Linked DNA regions of Homo sapiens: regions 1, 3 and 4 are each linked to region 2. Evidence: fine-mapped expression QTL. A gene starts in region 2. Each other region holds a variant in brackets. All regions are shown on one strand. Distances are from middle to middle.

Region 1 (5,792 bases), 25 kb before region 2:
ATTTTGAGACGGAGTTTCACTCATTGCCCAGGCTGGAGTGCAATGGTGCGGTCTTGGCTCACCACAACCTCCACCTCCCAGGTTCAAGCAATTCTCCCACTTCAGCCTCTCGAGTAGCTGGGATTACAGGCATGCACCACCATGCATGGCTAGTTTTGTATTTTTAGTAGAGATGGGGTTTCTCCATGTTTGTTAGTCAGTCTGGTCTTGAACTCCCAACCTCAGGTGATCCACCTGCCTCGGCCTCCCAAAGTGCCAGGATTACAGATGTGAGCCACCCCACCCAGCCTAATACTTTCTTTAAAAACTATAAAAATTACCTGGGCATGGTGGCTCATGCCTGTAGTACCAGCTACTTGTGGGGCTGAGATGGGAGGATCACTTGAGCCCAGGAAGTAAAGGTTTCGGTGAGCCAAGATCCTGCCACTGGACTCCAGCCTGGGTGACAGAGTAAAACCATCTCAAAAAAAAAAAAAAAAAAAAAAAGGTAATTTCCAATGGTACTAAGAGCTGCTTTACATCACGAGTAAGATTACATAGATTCTCTAGTCCCTTTACAGTCCATGTAAACACCTTTGCATAACTAGGTTAAATACCTAGCCCTAACGCTGAACTTATTCACTGATGTTTTATATTTCCTAGTTGATGCCCCATAAGACTACACACACAACAATTATACTATAGTTCAGTTTTATCCTATAGGAAATGACACCTGTCTTCTTTGGAAGGAAGAAAGGAGAATTCATCCAGTTGGCTAGGGAAATTGCATTTCTAACAAGTAACACAAACTAAACATACACTTTGCCCTACCTAATCATCAACCAATTCTAATTTCCTTTTGGTTAATCCAGTGTTTTTTTTTTTTTTTTTTTTGGAGACAGAGTCTTGCAGACCGTGTGCAGTGGCGCTATGTTGGCTCACTGCAACCTCTGCCTCCCAGGTTCAAGCGAGTCTCTTGCCTCAGCCTCTCAAGTAGCTGGGACCACAGCATGCACCAGCACACCAGACCCTTTTTTTTTTTTTTTTGTATTTTTAGTAGAGATGGGGTTTCACCATGTTGCGGCTGGTCTTGAACTCCTGAGCTCAGGCAATCTGCCCACCTTGGCCTCCCAAAGTGCTAGGATTACAGGTGTGAGCCACCACGCCTGGCCATTGTTATTTATTTGACAATTCAAAAATATACATTTTTTTAAAAGTATGCATTTGATTTTGGAATTTTCAATCCATAAATTTAGCTGAATCTTTACAAGCCATTAAGAATGCAACATGAGAATATAGACAGAAACTAAGTTACTCAGTTATCAAGTTGAGCCCTTAAAACTTAATAGATGTAGTTTATGAGGTATACCTTTGTATGAATTATATGCAGCTTTCTGTTAAAGTTCTAAAATTTGCCCTGTTAAAAAGAAAAGTGGTTGTGAAACTTTTTTGTAGGAAAGTAGCATCACTAAGTCTCTATATTGGCCATACAAGTAGCACCTGAATTTTTTTGTTTAATTAACCTTAACTAAAAAACACATACATACATGCTTTTTGGGCAGTTCATTTTATTACAGCCTTTTACTCTCCCTACCCCACTCCACATGCCGCCCCTCCCCACCCCCCACCTGATTTTTTTGTTGTTGTTGTTTTGTTTTTAGTTTTTTAAGTAGAGACAGGGGAAACAGGGTCTTACTACATTGCCAAAGCTGATCTCAAACTCCTATTCTCAAGTGACCCTCCTGCCTCAACCTCCTAAAGTGCTAGGATTACAGGCGTGAGCCACCATGCCAGGCCCTCCTTTTACCCTTGATCTGACTTTAGAAAACTATGTTTTTAATAGTGTTCCCCATGCTGTTATACACATGAAAACAATCTAGATCTCCACTTTATACAATTAGTAACCTACCAGTGGGATCTGTGTTACTGTTCACAGTACATAAAATATGCAAGCAAAGTTGGCTACATAAGAAAATACATTTCAAATACCTTCAAAACTCAAAAAGAACACACACAATTACGTATTTTATCATTTTATTAGGAATAATTCCAAATGGGTTATGAAGAAAATGTATTCATCGAATTTGATGAGTTTTCCAAAAACTCTTAATGAAGATATGTCTGCCCAATAAACAAAACATCAGCAGAACTATCATATACTGAGCAAAAAATCAGGCTGATAACAAAAGCAACATGCAACATAAAAAAGACACAATATAAAGGAAGACAATCTGCTGAGTATTAAAAACCATCTAAATATCAATTCTTTGCAACCAGCACAGAACTAATTGGCTATCAAATCCAAACCCCACCAAGGTTAAGTTTGGCTGATGTAGGCCAGGAGTCAATGTAGGGGGAAAAATTTCCTCAG[T/C]GCAAGAGAGCTGAGTAGTGTTTTGGATCTTTCTCTGGCTGGTACAAGCAGTATTAGAAAATCTTTTTGGCAAGGGAGAGAAATAAATACAAATGGAATGCTACATTTTTAAATTAGCAAACTGTCTCAGGAATGATAAAGGTATCAGTAAAGTAGCAAGGGGATAACTTTAAAACATTATTTGTCTGGGGCTCAAAAAACACTCAAAACAATTTATTTAAAGGTTGCACAAGAGCTATGTCCAGGCATTTACGCTTATGGGAAGTAAAATTAAAAGAGGATACTTTTTTCCCAAGGAGAATTTCTTTAAAACCAAGCACATTGCTAAATAGCAACATTATACTCGGTAAACAATAATTGGCAACAAAATAAGTTTAATATTCTGCCCAAACCAGTCCCAGATACTGTTTAATAACCAAGATACAAACTAATTTTGTTGTAACAAGCCTAGACCAATTTTATCAAACATGTCCTTGGTTAGATATCCAATTTCATTTAACGTTTTGAAAGCTCATTTGACAGCCAGTCAAGTCCTTCATACAGACCAGTTCCTTGTGTTGCACAAGTGGCTTGAACATACCACTGTAAAGAGAAGACAAGAAAATACTTGATTAACAAAGTTAATATATAACACCAGTGTTTAAACTTTCTTAATCAAACTTAAGAGTCTTTTCACACCTCTTGCATCTCACAAAACTCTCCCATATTTAAAGCTACTTCTGGCTGGGCGTGGTGGCTCACACCTATAAATCCCAGCACTTTGGGAGGCGGAGATGGGAGGATCACTTGAGCTTAGTAGTTCGAGACCAGCCTGGGTAACATGGTGAGACTTTGTCTCTACTTTTTTAGATTAAATTATTTTTTAAAAATAAAGCCACTTCTACCTATTCTGGAGGTTGCAGTGAGCCGAGGCTGTGCCACTGCACTCCAGCCTGGGCGACAGAGTGAGACTCCGTCTCAATCAATCAAGCTACTTCTACCTATTCATTATATTTAGACAAGATTTTCCCCCCTCATTCAGCTTTCTTTTCAGTGCTGGTTTTTGGTTCCCTTTTAGTAAACTTTCTACCACTTAATCTGAAAAAAGAAATCATGGGGAAATTAGTAACTAATAAACTACCCATCTGGTTTTTATAACTCTCGTTTCCCATAAAACTAAACTCAAAGTAGAAGAGGCAAATTTTTGAAAGAGTAGGGTTTGTTAGGCCGGGCGTGGTGGCTCACACCTGTAATCCCAGCACTTTGGGAGGCTGAGGCGGATGGATCATGAGGTCAGGAGATCGAGACCTTCCTGGCTAACGCAGTGAAACCCTGTCTCTACTAAAAATACAAAAAATTAGCCGGGCGTGGTGGTGGGCGCCTGTAGTCCCAGCTACTCAGGAGGCTGAGGCAGGAGAATGGCATGAACCCAGAAGGCAGAGCTTGCAGTGAGCCGAGATCGTGCCACAGCACTCCAGCCTGGGTGACAGAGCAAGACTCCATCTCAAAAAAAAAAAAAAGAAAGAAAGAAAGAGTAGGGTTTGTTGATATTTTAAGGGCAAGCTTTTCAGACAATTTCACCATCTTTAGTCTCATGCATTCCAAAACGTTCTTGCTTTTAAATGGCAACGAATCTTATCTCTAGTAACTGTGTGAAAGTATCAAAAAAAACCTAGAAAACAATTTACATTTAAGGCATAGTTTACTTTTATTAATTTTTTTGACCAGTTTAATGTTGCAAGGCCACTGCAGGTATACCATGTTGCCAATTATTTGAATACCAAATCTCAGTAACCTAGGAGGCTGGGGAAAGGCTCAAATTCATACCTTCACAGCATGGAAAACTTGTATCATTTACAGTTAGTGTTGCTTGCTTATTTATTGATTGATCGACTGATTGTTTTGAGGCAGAGTACTCACTCTTGCCCAGACTGGAGTGCAGTGGCGTGATCTCGGCTCACTACAACCTCCGCCTCACAGGCTCAAGAGATTCTCGTGCCTTCAGCCTCCCAAGTAGCTGGGGTTACACACATGCACCACCACGACCAGCTAATTTTTGTAATTTTAGTAGAGACAGAGTTTTACCATGTTGCCCAGGCTGGTCTCGAACTCCTGGTCTCAAGTGATCCGCCCACCTTCGCCTCCCAAAGTGCTGGGATTACAGGTGTGAGCCACCACACCCGGCCCAGTTTATGTTCTTCAAATCAGCCTGAGATATCTCAAACAGGCAATAGGTTGTTTTTTTTTGTTTGTTTGTTTGTTTTGAGACGGAGTCTCGCTCTGTCACCCAGGCTGGAGTGCAGTGGCGTGATCTCGGCTCACTGCAACCTCTGCTGCCTGGGTTCAAGTGATTCTCCTGCCTCAGCCTCCAGAGTAGCTGGGCTTGCAGATGCCTGCCACTGCACCTAATTTTTTTGTAGTTTTTAGTAGAGATGGGGTTTCATCATCTTGGCCATGTTGGTCTTGAATTCCTGACCTCATGATCCACCCACCTCAGCCTCCTAAAGTGCTGGGATTACAGGCGTGAGCCACTGCACCCGGCCTGCAATAGGTTCTTTGTTGTTTGTTTCATTTTTTACCACAGCCACAGTATTTCCCTTATTTACAGGTTAATGCAAAACTACTGTAAAAAGCCTATGACACTAAGTTTCTGATAATTTATCTCCATCACTGAATCACTGATCAATGATAAGCAATTTTAGAGAAGTACAAATTTTTTTTTTTTTTTTTAAAGAAACAGTCTTGCTCTGTCACCCAGGCTGGGGTGCAATGGGCACAATCACAGCTCTCTGCAGCCTCCAACTTCTGGGTTCAAACAGTCCTCCCACCTCAGCCTCCCAAGTAGCTGGGACTAAAGGCACATGCCACCACACCCAGCTAATTTTTATTTTTGTAGAGATAGGGTTTCACTTTGTTGCCCGGGCTGGTTTGGAACTCCTGGCCTCAAGCAATCCTCCTGCCTTGGGTTCCCAAAGTATTGGGATTACGGGTGTGAGCCGTGGTACCTGGTCTCCTCCATAAACTGTTATGTTAACAAGCAAACAAGGCTGGGCACCATGGCTGGAATCCCAGCGCTTTGGTAGGCTGAGATAGTGAGAGGATTGCTTGAGTCCAGGAGTTCAAGACCAGCCTAGCAACAAAGCGAGACCCCCCATCTCCACTTTTTTTTTGAGACCGAGTTTCGCTCTTGTTGCCCAGGCTGGAGTGCAGTGGCGCGATCGCGACTCACCGCAACCTCCACCTCCTGGGTTCAAGTGATTCTCCTGCCTCAGCCTTCCTGAGTAGCTGGGATTACAGGCATGCGCAACCACACCTGGCTAATTTTGTATTTTTAGTAGAGACAGGGTTTCTCCCTGGTTGGTCCGGCTGGTCTCAAACTCCCGACCTCAGATGATCTGCTCACCTAGGCCTCCCAAAGTGTTGGGATTACAGGCATGAGCCACCGCACCCAGCCCCCCATCTC
Region 2 (5,792 bases):
TCCTAACTCGAGCAGTATGGGCAATATCATCACTTGCATAACTTACCCTTATAACTAGTACATAATTTCTGTCAATCAATAGTTCAGATGATGTTAAATTTGATACACTGTGTTGGTTTTTTAATTACAGTTAACTACAAGCTAACTTCCAATATCTTTTAAAGTTACTTGAACTTTTGAAGAACAGCAGGTGTACGAATTAAATTTAAAACTTCTCCATAGTAGTTTGGCAAACCTGACACATCAGCTAACTGCTATCTCCTTTATACTTTAAAATGGTAAAGTCTGAATAAAACACTGACTCAGGAGGGCATGAATCTTATCTAAGCTTTATAAAGAAAAACGAAGCACACTAATGTAAAACATTAATAATTCCAACAGTTGAATGGGGCAGACACTTTAAAAGTGATCTATTATTTTTGCTGTCAGTCACTCATAAAGCCAGACAGAAAAATGTAAGAATTATCAAACTTCCAAACCACCTTTTTCCCTGTTCATGCACATATCTCCCTCGTACGTTGATACTTCCTTTGATGAGTTACCATAAATGTCGATCTTGTGACTGAAGTGTTTTTTAGTCAAGGAAAACTGATTATCCCAAAATTAAAGTGCAAAACGATAGCATGCCTGAGTAATAAAACATTAAAAACAAGTAACTCCTAAATCCTCCACACAAATGCAGAAACTTAAATATTTTTTCTCTCCCATTTTCTTCGAATCATTTTTTGGGGTGGAGGGAAATGCCTCCCAATATAGTAAATATATGAAAATGCTGGTAGCATACTTCTATATTCCTTGCCCCTCTGATACTTTCATCAATCACAAAAGACTAAGGAATTGAAAAATAGCAATTCATTTACAATAAATCTTAAGTAAAAAGACCAATATACTATGTGTTCTGGAACATAACCATATATTGTTAAATCTCTTTAACGAACAGACTGGAAATTCATTTATCACAGTCCGAAGTCCTCCCATTAACTTCCGATCCTTTTTCAGACTGCCAACTTTCAGCCACTGAAAACTTAAATATGCTTGCCCTCCTAAAATAATTCTGTCCTCTTGACAAAGGAAATCTAAGAAACTTTGAAAGAAAAAATACTTTATGAATGACTCATAAACAATTGATTCACAAAGTGTAAGTACGCTAAGAGGAAAATAAACATGAGCCAATGTATATACTGTTACTCTTTATATACCTTGAAATATTACAGAAGCTTGTGTTTGCAAGTTTTGATGGTAGTACAGCTCTAAAATAAAACCTCCGGCCGGGCGCGGTGGCTCACGCCTGTAATCCCAGCACTCTGGGAAGCCTGGGTGGGTGGATCACCTGAGGTGAGGAGTTCGAGACCAGACTGGCCAACGTGGTGAAACCCCCGTCTCTACTAATAATACAAAAAATTAGCCAGGCGTGGTGTTGCATGCCTGTAATCCCAGCTACTCGGGAGGCTGAGGCAGGAGAATCTCTTGAACCCGGGAGGTGGAGGTTGCAGTGAGCCGAGATTGCGCCACTGCACTCCAGCCTGGGTGACAAGAGCAAAACTCCGTCTGCAAAAAAAAAAAAGGAAGAGAAAAATAAAACCTCCTCCGGTAGAAAACAAGCTAATGAACCAACAAGTTTCAACGTTCAAAGTTAGAGGGGCTTCTTTCAGCGTTATTCTAGTCCATGGAGCTCAGCTGTGATGTAGACTGCTTACAGTAACCGGGAGCGGTTGCTTACTTCAGCCAACTGACAGCCCTTCTCCCTCAGCTGAGCAAAAACACGCCCCCTAAAAAGTAGTTTTTAAAAAGTCAACTTTCTAAAAAGAAATTTTAAAAAAATTGTAGTTACTATTTAACAAGACTACCATAAAATTCAGCGTCATGATGTTCAGTTACTTGAAAATTTATCAGGTATTTTTTAAAAATTCGTTTCTAAAATTTTTTTGCATTAGACCTTAGACCGCCTAAAAATAAGCTTAAAAACCTAGGAGAATAAACCAAACACATTTAAAGTTTTTGAAAATAGTCAAAGAAATAGAAGATAAGCTCAGTTTTCGGAGAATGAGATTAACAAGGAGCGAAAAACTTGAAACGGAATCCAGCGCAAGGCCAAGTTTAGCAAAGTGAGCGCTGAAGGACTCCAGACTCTTCGGAAACCTTGGGTGCTCCCTGGCCACCGCAACTTCCTGCCCCGGGCGGCTCCAGGCTCCGGGTGGCCGCTGGCTTACATACCAATGGAGTATGCAGGGACTGTACACGAAACGCAGAAGGGGAGGGAAAAGGCTGGAGTTGCTCTGCCTCCCTCCTGACCGCTGTCCACACCCGGGCAAGAAGGTATGCAGATCGCACCCCCAGAAAGGGCCTCGCCAAGTGTTTGCTTCCCAGAGTTGGCTTTCCCCACATCTCTGCCCAATGTTGTCCAGCTTTCAATAAGATCAAGGAGAAAAAGCCGAGTCCAGAAAGAAATCTTGCCCGAAGCCCTGTCCCTGTCTCGTCTGGCGACAGATCGGGGGCGGGGGGGATCGCTCACCCTCCGCTCCATTGTTCCCCCTTAAGAATTCCTTCCGACCCCCGACCCGGCGCCCCTCCCCCACCACAGCGGGCGGAGGAAAAAAACAGGCCCAGAGGCCACCCCAATTGTGGAGACCCTGCCTTTCCCAGGTCCCGCCTGACTCGCAGCCCCTCACTCACCCATCAAAATGCGCATCTGCTTCTTGCCAAATAGTCGGGAGAAGAGGGAGGAGATAGTGAGGCCCATGGCGGTAGTGGCACTTGTGATGGGCAGAAGCAGAAGGGGTTTGGGGCGACCCCGTGCTTTCTCCTTTCAAGCTCCCAGGCAAACTAAACGAGAGGGAAGAGAAAGAGCGGAGGAAGAAAGAGGGAGGCAGAAACGTCTCAGTGGCCCCTGTGCCGATGAAGATCCGGCACAGGAATAAGCCGGTAGAGGACCTGCTAGGCGACTGGCGCGGCAGCTCCGGCTCTAGCCTTTAGGCTCTGGCTGTGCCACGTCACGCGGCGGCCGCGGCGACTCCAGCAGCGGCCCGGCCCCTCCAACGCGGACAGAATCGCGTCACCGCCGCCCCATCCCCCTGCGCTTCCGGTGCGCCCGAGCCACTGCGCTTGCGCCTGCAGGGGATTGGCCAGTTTCGCTGACGAGCATCTCTCGACGGCGCCACCGCCCGGACGTGGCCCCAGGAGCCGGGAGAGGCCGGCTGAGGCACATGCGTACTGGGAGACGGACAAAGTCCCACAATACCTCGCTTCGTCACTGCCAAATCAGACTCAGGGTGAGACGCTTCCGCCCGGATGAAGGTATTGTCGGGGTGATAGTCCTTGCTTCCGGAAAGGCGAGCTGAGCATTATGGGTTAGGTGAGGAACCTCGCCCTCTTCTATTACGGTACGCGCGATGGGTATTCCCTGATGCCATGAACTTACACGTTTCACACACGGGACCAGACGCTTGCTTTAGTTGACGCATGAAGACCGGTCCGGTCTTTTGCGGAGAAAAGTGGTTAAAAGCTGACTTGTGGGCCGAGAAACTGTGGCACCCTAATGAGCTAGGGCTAGACGCTTCGACCACCACGCCAAGTGATTCTGAAGATCTCTAATTCTGTCAAGGCGAGAGCGCTCCAACACGTGTTCATCGGCTGTTGCTTTTTAAAGAGAAGGCAAGGAGGAAGTCTTGCTTTTCTTGTACTTTTTTTCCTAGAAGCAGCATTAAAGATTTACTCCTTATGTTGAGGAAGCGGAAAGCCTCTTCACTTTAAAAGTGTTTATGATCGGGCCTGGCGCGGTGACTCACCGCGCCCGGCCTGCTACACCTTTTAAAATTCACAGCAATGATAAATGTATTAGACTCATTGCCAGGATAAAGATTTAATCTATTTTTCTAGTAGTGCCGTCCTATGTGGTTCTGTAGTTGCTTATTCCAACTGGTATATTTCCATAGGATGGGGTTGAATAAGAAAAACTTGCAAACTTTCAGAAACAGTAAGTTATTTTTATATTTTTGAAGGCTTGCTGAGTAACGCTTCTCTTGGTAGCACTACCTTATCTACCCTTCAGAGACTGTTATTTCTTAGGAGTGGCCCTGGGCAATTAAAAGCAAAAACTTCTGGCCGGGCATAGTGGCTCATGCCTGTAATCCCAGCACTTTGGGAGGCCGAGGCGGGCAGATTACGAGGTCAGGAGATCGAGACCATCCTGGCTAACACGGTGAAACCCAGTCTCTACTAAAAATAGAATAAATTAACCGGGCGTGGTGGCGGGTGCCTATACTCCCAGCTACTCCGGAGGCTGAGGCAGAAGAATGGCGTGAACCCGGGAGGCGGAGGTTGCAGTGAGCGGAGATCGCGCCCCTGCACTCCAGCCTGGGCGACAGAGCGAGACTGTCTTAAAAAAACAAACAACAACAACAAAAAAACCCCAAAAACTTCTTTACTCAGAAGTACCCTCCTTTGCATTGGAGATACATGTAAAGAGTTGCTTAGCAGTTGAATAACTCAAAATTGCATTTTGGAAGCTTGCTAAGTGACAAGACCTTCTTGTATCCTTTTGTGAACCCCCAAAATATGAGACAGGCCTCAGTTAATTTAGAAAGTTAATTTTGCCAAAGTTGAGGACACGCGTCCATGACATAGCCTCAGGAGGTCTTGTAGACATGTGCCCAAGGTGATCAGAGCACGGTTTGGTTTTATACATTCTAGGGAGAAATGAGACATCAATCAATATATGTAAGATGAACATTGGTTCATTCTGGAAAGACTGGACAACTCAAAGCAAAGGCAGGAAGACTCTGAGTGGGGAGGGAGCTTCCAGGGCATAGATAGATAAGAGACAAATGGTTGCATTCCTTTGAGTTTCTGATTAGCCTCTCCAAAGGAGGCAGTCAGATATGCGTTTATCTCAGTGAGCAGAGGGGTGACTTTTTAAAGAATGGGAGGCAGGTTGGCCCTAAGCAGTTCCCAGCTTGACTTTTCTCTTTAGCTTAGTGAGGTGGAGGCCCCAAGATTTATTTTCCTTTCACACTTTAGGCCTTATGTCTGTTTTTAGTTTTATATAGTAGAATTCCTTAAAACAATCTTCAACTAATTCTTAGGGTCTTCTTAAATTCAAAAGACAAACCGTATGAGCCCTCCTCCCTGTAACTTATTCCAAATCTTAATCCATGTTTTCTGTTTAGTTATGCAAAATAAATCGAAAGAATTCTGTTCTCCATCTCTAGCCTCCAAAACCTGAACCAAAACAAAAGTTGTCAAAACAGATTTTTCAGTAAGAATACACTACACATCAAGTGGCTAATGTAAATTACAAAACAGGATGTTAATGGCAGACTGTAATATCTCTATTGTACAGATAAAAATAATCAGGGTCAGAGAGATTAAATATTCTGCCCAAGGTCACACAGCTAAAAGCAGTGGAACAGCTATAAGAACCCATTTCTTCTGGTATTAACTGGTATTTACACTCTTTTTTTTTTTTTTTTTTTAATAAATAAGTGGATTCTGGCTATGTTGCCCAGGCCTGTCTGGAACTCCTGGGCCCAAGCAATCCTTCCACCTCAGCCTCCAAAGTGTTGGGATTACAGGTGTGAGCCAGTGCACCCAGCCATTAACACTCTTAACCACTACACTATACTACCTTCTTACATTTATTTATTTATTTATTTGAGACAGGGTCTCACTTTGTCACCCAAGCTGAAGTACAGTGGCATCATCTCGGCTTACTCAACCTCCTGGGATCAAGTGATCCTCCCACCTCAGCCCCCAAAGTAGCTGGGACTACAGGTACACCACCACATTGGCTAAGT
Region 3 (5,000 bases), 120 kb before region 2:
AGCGGACCTAATAGGCATCTACAGAACTCTCCACCCCAAATCAACAGAATATACATTCTTCTCAGCACCACACAGCACTTATTCCAAAATTGACCACACGGTTGGAAGTAAAGCACTCCTCAGCAAATGTAAAAGAACAGAAATTATAACAAACTATCTCTCAGACCACAGTGCAATCAAACTAGAACTCAGGATTAAGAAACTCACTCAAAACCACTCAACTACATGGAAACTGAAAAACCTGCTCCTGCATGACTACTGGTACATAACGAAATGAAGGCAGAAATAAAGATGTTCTTTGAAACCAACGAGAACAAAGACACAACATACCAGAATCTCTGGGATACAGTCAAAGCAGTGTGTAGAGGGAAATTTATAGCACTAAATGCCCACAAGAGAAAGCAGGAAAGGTCCAAAATTGACACCCTAACATCACAATTAAAAGAACTAGAGAAGCAAGAGCAAACACATTCAAAAGCTAGCAGAAGGCAAGAAACAACTAAGATCAGAGCAGAACTGAAGGAAATAGAGACATAAAAAACCCTTCAAAAAATCAATGAATCCAGGAGCTGGTTTTTTGAAAAGATCAACAAAATTGATAGACCGCTAGCAAGACTAATAAAGAAGAAAAGAGAGAAGAATCAAATAGATGCAATAAAAAATGATAAAGGGGATGTCACCACCGATCCCACAGAAATACAGACTACCATCAGAGAATACTATAAACACCTCTACGCAAATAAACTAGAAAATCTAGAAGAAATGGATAAATTCCTCGACACATACACCCTCCCAAGACCAAACCAGGAAGAAGTTGAATCTCTGAATAGACCAATAACAGGCTCTGAAATTGAGGCAATAATTAATAGCTTACCAACCAAAAAAAGTCCAGGACCAGATGGATTCACAGCCGAATTCTACCAGAGGTACAAGGAGGAGCTGGTACCATTCCTTCTGAAACTATTCCAATCAATAGAAAAAGAGGGAATCCTCCCTAACTCATTTTATGAGGCCAGCATCATCCTGATACCAAAGCCGGGAAGAGACACAACAAAAGAAGAATTTTAGACCAATATCCCTGATGAACGTCGATGCAAAAATCCTCACTAAAATACTGGCAAACTGAATCCAGCAGCACATCAAAAAGCTTATCCACCATGATCAAGTGGGTTTCATCCCTAGGATGCAAGGCTGGTTCAACATACGCAAATCAATAAATGTCATCCAGCATATAAACAGAACCAAAGACAAAAACCATATGATTATCTCAATAGATGCGGAAAAGGCCTTTGACAAAATTCAACAGTGCTTCATGCTAAAAACTCTCAATAAATTAGGTATTGATGGGACGTATCTCAAAATAATAAGAGCTATCTATGACAAACCCACAGCCAATATCATACTGAATGGGCAAAAACTGGAAGCATTCCCTTTGAAAACTGGCACAAGACAGGGATGCCCTCTTTCACCACTCCTATTCAACAAAGTGTTAGAAGTTCTGGCCAGGGCAATCAGGCAGGAGAAGGAAATAAAGGGTATTCAGTTAGGAAAAGAGGAAGTCAAATTGTCCCTGTTTGCAGATGACATGATTGTATATCTAGAAAACCCCATTGTCTCAGCCCAAAATCTCCTTAAGCTGATAGGTAACTTCAGCAAAGTCTCAGAATACAAAATCAATGTGCAAAAATCACAAGCATTCTTATACACCAATAACAGACAAACAGAGAGCCAAATCACGAGTGAACTCCCATTCACAATTGCTTCAAAGAGAATAAAACACCTAGGAATCCAACTTACAAGGGACATGAAGGACCTCTTCAAGGAGAACTACAAACCACTGCTCAACAAAATAAAAGAGGATACAAACAAATGGAAGAACATTCCATGCTCATGGGTAGGAAGAATCAATATCGTGAAAATGGCCATACTGCCCAAGGTAATTTATAGATTCAATGCCATCCCCATCAAGCTACCAATGACTTTCTTCACAGAATTGGAAAAAACTACTTTGAAGTTCATATGGAACCAAAAAAGAGCCTGCATTGCCAAGTCAATTCTAAGCCAAAAGAACAAAGCTGGAGGCATCACGCTACCTGACTTCAAACTGTACTACAAGGCTACAGTAACCAAAACAGCATGGTACTGGTACCAAAACAGAGATATAGACCAATGGAACAGAACAGAGGCCTCAGAAATAATGCCGCATATCTACAACCATCTGATCTTTGACAAACCTGAGAAAAACAAGCAATGGGGAAAGGATTCCCTATTTAATAAATGGTGCTGGGAAAACTGGCTAGCCATATGTAGCAAGCTGAAACTGGATCCCTTCCTTACACCTCATACAAAAACTAATTCAAGATGGATTAAAGACTTAAATGTTAGACCTAAAACCATAAAAACCCTAGAAGAAAACCTAGGCAATACCATTCAGGACATAGGCATGGGCAAGGACTTCAAGCCTAAAACACCAAAAGCAATGGCAACAAAAGCCAAAATTGACAAATGGGATCTAATTAAACTAAAGAGCTTCTGCACAGCAAAAGAAACTACCATCAGAGTGAACAGGCAACCTACAGAATGGCAGAAAATTTTTGCAATCTACCCATCTGACAAAGGGCTAATATCCAGAATCTACAATGAACTCAAACAAATTTACAAGAAAAAAACAAACAACCCCATCAAAAAGTGGGCAAAGGACATGAACAGACACTTCTCAAAAGAAGACATTTTTGCAGCCAAAAGACACATGAAAAAATGCTCATCATCACTGGCCATCAAAGAAATGCAAATCAAAACCACAATGAGATACCATCTCACACCAGTTAGAATGGCGATCATTAAAAAGTCAGGAAACAACAGGTGCTGGAGAGGATGTGGAGAAATAGGAGCACTTTTACACTGTTGGTGGGACTGTAAACTAGTTCAACCATTGTGGAATTCAGTGTGGCGATTCCTCAGGGATCTAGAACTAGAAATACCATTTGACCCAGCCATCCCATTACTGGGTATATACCCAAAGGATTATAAATCATGTTGCTATAAAGACACATGCACACGTATGTTTATTGCAGCACTATTCACAACAGCAAAGACTTGGAACCAAC[C/A]CAAATGTCCAACAATGATAGACTGGATTAAGAAAATGTGGCACATATACACCATGGAATACTATGCAGCCATAAAAAAGGATGAGTTAATGTCCTTTGTAGGGACATGGATGCAGCTGGAAACCATCATTCTCAGCAAACTATTGCAAGGACAAAAAACTAAACACCGCATGTTCTCACTCATAGGTGGGAATTGAACAATGAGAACACATGGACACAGGAAGGGGAACATCACACACCGGGGACTGTTGTGGGGTGGGGGGAGGGGGGAGGGATAGCATTAGGAGATATACCTATGTTAAATGACGAGTTAATGGGTGCAGCACACCAACATGACACATGTATACATATGTAACTAACTTGCACGTTGTGCACATGTACCCTAAAACTTAAAGTATAATAATAAAAAAACAAAGCTGTGCAACATTGAAAAAAAAAAAAAAAAGAAATTCCAAGCTAAAATTACTGTAAAAATCAACTGGAAACCTCTAGAAGAGGACAGGGGAGAAGGAGAGGCATGGCGATCAGAAAGTTATATGCAGAGTCCTGGGGTGCTGACAATATCCTATTTCTTGGCCTAGGTGGTGGCAATATAACCGCTCAATTTACAGCTATTTGTGTAACTATATATTTTATACATCTTCACCATGAAAATAATATTTCACAATGAAAACAAACCAAAATATGCAAATTAAAATTCCTTACCTGGATCCTTAAAATCAACTCTTCGATTCCTACAGTCCGGGCTTTTTCTACATAAGATATCAGATCCATCATCTCTTCTGTTGTTTCAGGGACTTTTAATGCATGTTCTTTAATTGCTTCAAATTCACTGCAAATACTGACATAATACTCTGCTTTAATAGACTTATGGCAATTAATGTTATATCATATTCAATAAATGTGTGTTATGACGATTACTATAAAATAAGAACTATGATATCCTAAAAAAATTGCTTGATTCACTAAGGTATCTTAAAAATATTTAAGCTTGGCCAGGCACAGTGGCTCACACCTGTAATCATAGCACTTTGAAAGGCCAAGGCAGGCAGATCACTTGAGCTCAGGAGTTCAAAACCAGCCTGTGCAAAGTGGTGAAACCCTGTCTCTACAAAAAAAAAAAATACAAAAATTAGCTGGGCATGGTGGCACATGCCTGTAGTCCCAGCTACTTGGGAAGCTGAGGCAGGAGGATCACTTGAGCTTGGGAGGTTGAGCTACAGTGGGCCATGATTGCACCGTTGCACTCCAGTCTGGGTGACAGAGTGAGACCCTGTCTCAAAAAAAAAAAAAAAAAAAAAGCTTATCTGCTATAATTCAGTATATACTATACATCAACAAAACCTACAAAATTAAGGTAATATTTACATGCAAAATTATGGCATATTAGAAAAAAATTTTAGCGACCTCTTCAACTCTCTTAAATACCCAGGTAACACTCATCTTTCTGGATTGTTGTAATACAACAATGAATGCAAAGGGTCTAGCACATAGTACACTCTATTTACTGATAACTATAATCATTAGTATAATTATTAGTTTTATTATTATTAGTGCCTCTTGTGAAACATGACAGTACAGCAAGTAAACAGATCAAACCCTCAAACTCTTATACATAGTTTCTTTAATTAACAGTTCTCTTAGAATATCCCATGTAGGATATGAACCTAGATATCCTACAGCATTATTCAACTAAAGTTACATTTCATGGAATTTTTTCCTGTGCTTTAAAATATCTGGGCCAAACTAATCTTTGATAAAGCATACAAAAACATAAATTGGGGAAAGGACACCCTATTCAATAAATAGTGCTGGGAAACCTGAACAGCCACAGGATCTCCATCTCTCACCTTATACAAAAATCTCCTCAAGACGGATCAAAGACTTAAATCC
Region 4 (5,792 bases), 36 kb before region 2:
ATCAAGGGAAGGAGATGGAAGAAAACGTTAGTTCGCCATTAGTCTTAGATAAAAAACAGGCCGGGCCTGGTGGCTTATGCCTGTAATCCCAGCACTTTGGGAGGCCGAGGCGGGTGGATCACAAGTCAGGAAATCGAGACCATCCTGGCTAACACGATGAAACCCCGTCTCTACTACAAATACAAAAAAATTAGCCGGGCGTGGTGGCACGCGCCTGTAGTCCCAGCTACTCCGGAGGCAGAGGCAGGGGAATCGCTTGAACCCGGGAGGCGGAGCTTGCAGTGAGCCGAGATCGCGCTACTGCACTCCAGCCTGGTTGACAGAGTGAGACTGTCTCGAAAAAACTCAAAAAAACAAACAAACAAACAAAAACATTCAGGAGATTTGCAAATGCCAACTGAACTCTTGGCACTTTCCGTTTATTTTAGGTTTCAGTTCTTCAGTCTACAAAGGACTCTTCTAAAAGGATATGTGTTGCTAATACCCATCTTTACTGGCATCCTAAAGGTAGGTTTTATTTGGTATCACAAGTGACTTAAACACGCTTAAAGTTGTTTAAAGTGTTTTACACAAATGCATATCTTGAACGTCACCCAGAGACTGTAATTTGTGTAGTTTTTCTTTTTTAACTTAAAGACAACTTTAAAAAATACTTACATTAATGTTTTTTATATTCATAGGTGGGTATATTCGCCTCATTCAAATGGCAGTAGCCTTGGCTCACATAAGACATGTTTCATGTGATCTGTATCCTGGCATACCAGTTATATTTTGTGGGGACTTTAATAGTACACCATCAACAGGAATGTATCATTTTGTCATCAATGGCAGCATTCCAGAGGATCATGAAGACTGGGCTTCCAATGGGGAGGAGGAAAGATGCAATATGTCTCTTACACATTTCTTCAAGCTGAAAAGTGCTTGTGGTGAACCTGCTTACACAAATTATGTTGGTGGCTTTCATGGATGTCTAGATTACATTTTCATTGACTTAAATGCTTTAGAGGTTGAACAGGTGATTCCATTACCTAGTCATGAAGAAGTTACCACCCACCAGGCCTTACCTAGTGTTTCCCATCCCTCTGATCACATAGCACTTGTATGTGATTTAAAATGGAAATAGATGTGTGTTTAATGGAATTGAAGTCTGAAAAGGAAGTAGTTATTTTAGCAGAAAATTTAATATGAATCAAAGCTTATATGTAAACTTCAAGGAGGAATGGTAAAATGTTCAGCCCTCCTAGTTATGTTCCTGATGTCTTCGTTATGAAACTGTTGATGTTTGCATCATACATCTTCTCTTTCCTTGTTTTCCTCTACAATTGGAGGAGAAACAAATATATTTCTTACTAGCAAAATAGAAAATTGAATTATTTTTCTCCAAATTGAGACTCTCAGAAAAGGAAGATTGAATTAGCGTGTTTTTTGTTTGTTTGTTTTTGTTTTTGTTTTTGTTTTTTTGAGATGGAGTTTCACTCTTGTTGCCCAGGCTGGAGTGCAATGGCACAATCTCGGCTCACTGCAACCTCCGCCCCCTGGGTTTAAGCGATTCTCCTGCCTCAGCTTCCCGAGTAGCTGGGATTACAGGCGTGCGCCAACATGTCTGGCTAATTTTTGTATTTTTAGTAGAAATGGGGTTTCGCCACGTTGGCCAGGCTGGTCTTGAACTCCTGACCTCAGGTGATCCACCCACCTCGGCCTCCCAAAGTGTTGGGATTACAGGCGTGAGCCACCGCACCCGGCCCTTGTGTACATTTTTATAAGAGAATTTTTTTAGCTAGGAGTTCAGAATTTTTAAAGTACCATTTGAATGATCTTAATTTTTCTTTCATGACAACACATTCCAAAATGAATCATGCTTATGTACTAAGAGGGAAAATGTATTTAAGTTAAGGGTGAGAGACTTAAGTTATAGGTGACCTTAGAGACCTAAGGTGAGAGACTTGACACATGGAAGGAGTAACATTAGGGTCTACCTCTACCTCAATTTAGTTAGCGATTTACTACAATTTCAGAGCTTTAACAAAAGATAAAAATAAATCGTCACCAATTGTTATTGCTTCTCATCTTTCATTTTTCAATGAACAAGTAAGGTATTTTCATTCTTATTTTTAGGATTTTAGTTTTTAGTGTATGGTACAAATGAACACAGTTTATATTCTAATTCTTACTGCAGCTCATTTTAATTTTTAGGATGCAAGCACAATTTAGTATTCAAAGTGAGTAGCAACATATTCAACTTGATCCCATTGTCTTCAGTTACTCTTGCCCATGAAAAATGTTCATAAATGAACAGGGTATTTGACCATATGATATTAGAAAATACAGCACATTACTTTATGAGAAACTACCTACTGATATGGGCTTGAAATTTTGGATGAATCATTGAGCATTTCTACACTAGAAGTAATTTCAAAATTGTTGGTTTTTATAAACAGGAAAAAGGTTGAGTAGTGGGACTTTTAAGCATCTCTGAAATAAAAAACTTCTTTTTACAGACAAGCATTATAGTTTGAGTTACAGACAACAGTGTGTATATATGTAATATATATATAGTAAAATGAAATTTAAATATGAAGCCAAACTTTTTAAAATTAGAAACTACAAATGGTTATACTGATTAGTGTCTAGCCTAGAGTGGTAACCATGCTTTACTAATTCAGTTATGAAATACATTATTTATAATGCATTAGCTGTATTAGCTGTTGCTTTTTTGATGTTCAGGATAACTATGTTATCTCATTTCTGCATTTAATTAATAGCTCGAGTATTAAAAGCCCACTCCCTTCAAGAAAAGCTTTGATTTTCCCCAGTCATGAAAGCCCTTGTTTCAAATTCTTTAATCTCTGAACCTAGTATCATAAGAATTTCCTCTTTTGATAACATCTGTACTTTCATATTCTGCTCACTATCAAATGTATTGTTAACACTTAGTAAGTTTGAAAATGAAGGGGTTTTATCTGCATTTGACATTGAACCTTGAAGTACTTTAAGTACTCCAAGGGGAAAATTAAAGTGGAAGTTTCTTCGGATCTTGTTTAGAAAAAACTATAAATAAAAAATTGATGCTACCAAATTGTGCCTTCCTAAATAACATTTTTGAGAGCATTTTAACAGCAGTTTACAAATATGTAAATAATAGATTAAAACCAAATCTTGATTCTCTTGTGAATTTTTTTTTCATTTTAAAAATATGTTTTTGGGCTGTTTTCAAAGAAAGATGTTGATAGAACCCTTAGAGTGACTTGGGAGAAAACAAAGTGTCACATCAAAAAGTTGAGAAACATTTTGAAAGAAAAAATTCGAACATGCCCATGAAAAAAGCATACAGCTTCCACATTAACACTGGCTAGATTAAACTCTAGTCAGAAAAACTCAGCACTTAACAGACATTCCATGTCCTATATCCTTAATTTTGATGTTTTCTGACTAAACAATATACTCAGATTGTATACAGGCATTTCACATTATTAGGACATGGAATGTTATTGTGAAGTGCCATATACTGTGATCAAATCTCCAGTATA[C/T]GGATACGTTAAAATGATTGGAGTCCAAAGGTAGGGAACACTAAGAAAATGTATAAATAGCATACACATTTCTTTGTACTCATGAGTTAGAATGCAGTGTTATTCAGAAATGTCTGTTTAAAGCACCTATGTGATTGCATTTTTCTATTACATTTGGATTTTTTAGTACATTTAATTTTAAGAAAACATGGGAAATCTAGCGACTTTCTATGGTAAACCACATTTTATAATGTCACAAGTTCTTGCTATAGGAATTAACATTCTAGAATTTTATATTGATTATAAAAGAGTATTTCAGAACATATTATTCTGTTAAAATGAACTCTTGCACAGTTGCCGCTACAGCAAATGTGTCTGCCAATAATCAAAATTCATGAGCAAACAATCGTTTCTGGCTGTAATGTATGTTCTTTTTGAAATTCTGTATGCTAAAATCAGTTGTTTCAAAATTTCAAGAATTCCACTGAGTAGTGATTTTTCTGAGTACTAAGCTATGATCTCATCAGAATGTGCTGGTTTCAGTCTGGAGATAGATTTCTGAGGAGCCTAATACAAGGGAGAGAATGTCCAAAGAACACTACTGTGGAAAGTTCTTACGATGGAAATTGACATCTTTTGTATCTCATTCTCCAGCCGTGAAATAAAGGCAGAGGTTCCCTGCAAACTAGTTTGGTTGGGATAAATCCAATATTTATATATAATGAAAAATAAAAGTTTGCATTATTAGTTTATCACAAGACCCATGTGACAACTCAGAAAATATTCTCAGCATAATTTTTTTAAGAGATAGAGTCTCACTGTTACCCAGGCTGGAGTGCAGTGGTGCAGTCATAACTTACTACAGCCTCAAACTGCGGGGCTCAAATGATCCTCCTGCCTCAGCGTCCCAAGTAGTTGAGATTACAAGCCCAACCTTCCATAACTGAAAACTAACTTTCTTTTTTTCTTTTTTTATTATTATACTTTAAGTTCTAGTGTACATGTGCCCAACGTGCAGATTTGTTACATAGGTATACATGTGCCATGTTGGTTTGCTGCACCCGTTAACTCGTCATTTACATTAGGTATTTCTCCTAATGCTATCCCTCCCCCAGCCCTGAAAATGAATTTTTTAAACACAAATAAAAAATATTTCAGTGTTTTGAGAATTTTAATAATTTGCTTAATATAGTACAGGAAGGCAACACTATCTAGAGGGCCAGGCATAGTGGCTCTTGACTGTAATCACAACATTTTGGGAGGCTGAGGCAGGAGGATCACTTGAGCTGAGGAGTTCAAGACCAGCCTTGGCAACATTGTGAGACCCTATCTCTGCAAAAAATAAAATTAACCAGGCATGGTGGTGCATGCCTGTAGTCCCAGCTGCTCAGGAGGCTGAGGCCAGAGGATCACTTGAGCCCATGAGGTCAAGCCTGCAGTGAGTTGTGATCAAGGTGCGCTGCACTCCAGCCTGGGTAATAGAGCAAGACCCTGTCTTCAAAAAACCACTCTAGATTTCATGTTGTAGGGGGTAGGGAGGACAATTTTTAACAGCTTTAACTGACATGGGTAATATATAAGTTCTGTGTTCTCACTTTATATGAAAGTACTTTTTTAAATGTTAAAAATACTAGAGCTGTATTAACTTCGTGATTTTATTTTTCTTCTTAGCACTAACTTCAAAATAACCATACAGTACTGCTTGTAATTTTTGTATTTTTAGTAGAGACAGGGTTTCACCATATTGGCCAGGCTGGTCTTGAACTCCTGAACTCAAGTGATCTGCCTGCCTCAGCCTCTGAAAGTGCTGGGATTACAGGCATGAGCCACGGTACCCGGCCTAAATTTTAATTTTATATATAAATGGCAAAATAATCTTAAATATAGTAAATCTGTTCACCTATCTGCTATGCTAGCAAATTCTGGGTTGTCAAAAATCCATGTTCATACTGTCAGTGTTAGATTTTTACTCATAATTTAAAATTTCCCCGCAAAATTTCACAGAAAACTGAATTATTCATCTCTATCTTCTGTCCAATTTATGTAATGAATGTATGTCAAAGCATTTATATAACACAGTCCATTTTGCCCAGTAATTCACTTTAATGATGTTATCATGAAGTATTGATGTACTTTTTTTTTAGTGTATTGAAGTATTCCTAGGTTGCATTTGTGCTAGTTTCATACCATTTGTGTTCCTTATATATTGAAGATGGTTCAGTAGGGGAAATGGATAGGCTTTATTTAGTTGGCTTTCTTATACTGGATAATATAAACACTTTTTTT

Which allele goes with the higher level. Positions count from the first base shown, and alleles are read on the strand shown. Sizes are in standard deviations (SD) of each study's normalised expression. Not every link is listed here.
In carriers of allele T in region 1, the expression in whole blood of the gene that starts at base 2,944 in region 2 tends to be lower than with C alone (large effect, 1.4 SD a copy in Lepik 2017).

Evidence for each region.
Region 1: its variant is fine-mapped to the expression of ARF4 in whole blood (Lepik 2017, PIP 0.95).
Region 3: its variant is fine-mapped to the expression of ARF4 in whole blood (INTERVAL, PIP 0.91).
Region 4: its variant is fine-mapped to the expression of ARF4 in whole blood (INTERVAL, PIP 0.97).

What each region holds. Positions count from the first base shown.
Region 1 is chr3:57,569,367-57,575,158 of GRCh38, forward strand. It overlaps ARF4 (ARF GTPase 4), which reads right to left. Exons shown (of 6, transcript NM_001660.4): 6 at 1,997-2,932. The coding sequence ends at 2,846. It also overlaps a transcript of PDE12 not described here. Among named protein-coding and RNA genes, the nearest start is that of PDE12, 16 kb to the left of the region's middle. The variant T/C (reference allele first, on the strand shown) is at 2,351.
Region 2 is chr3:57,594,401-57,600,192 of GRCh38, forward strand. It overlaps ARF4 (ARF GTPase 4), which reads right to left and starts at 2,944. Exons shown (of 6, transcript NM_001660.4): 1 at 2,674-2,944. The coding sequence starts at 2,740. It overlaps ARF4-AS1 (ARF4 antisense RNA 1), which reads left to right and starts at 3,389. Exons shown (of 2, transcript NR_132370.1): 1 at 3,389-3,651. It also overlaps a transcript of PDE12 not described here. RefSeq lists enhancers at 2,348-2,397, 2,418-2,567, 2,481-3,680, 2,556-3,261, 2,598-2,647 and 4 more.
Region 3 is chr3:57,479,564-57,484,563 of GRCh38, forward strand. DNAH12 (dynein axonemal heavy chain 12) reads right to left here. Exons shown (of 74, transcript NM_001366028.2): 13 at 3,813-3,948. Among named protein-coding and RNA genes, the nearest start is that of DNAH12, 62 kb to the right of the region's middle. The variant C/A (reference allele first, on the strand shown) is at 3,108.
Region 4 is chr3:57,558,882-57,564,673 of GRCh38, forward strand. It overlaps PDE12 (phosphodiesterase 12), which reads left to right. Exons shown (of 3, transcript NM_177966.7): 2 at 429-507; 3 at 681-5,792. The coding sequence ends at 1,123. Among named protein-coding and RNA genes, the nearest start is that of PDE12, 5.5 kb to the left of the region's middle. The variant C/T (reference allele first, on the strand shown) is at 3,528.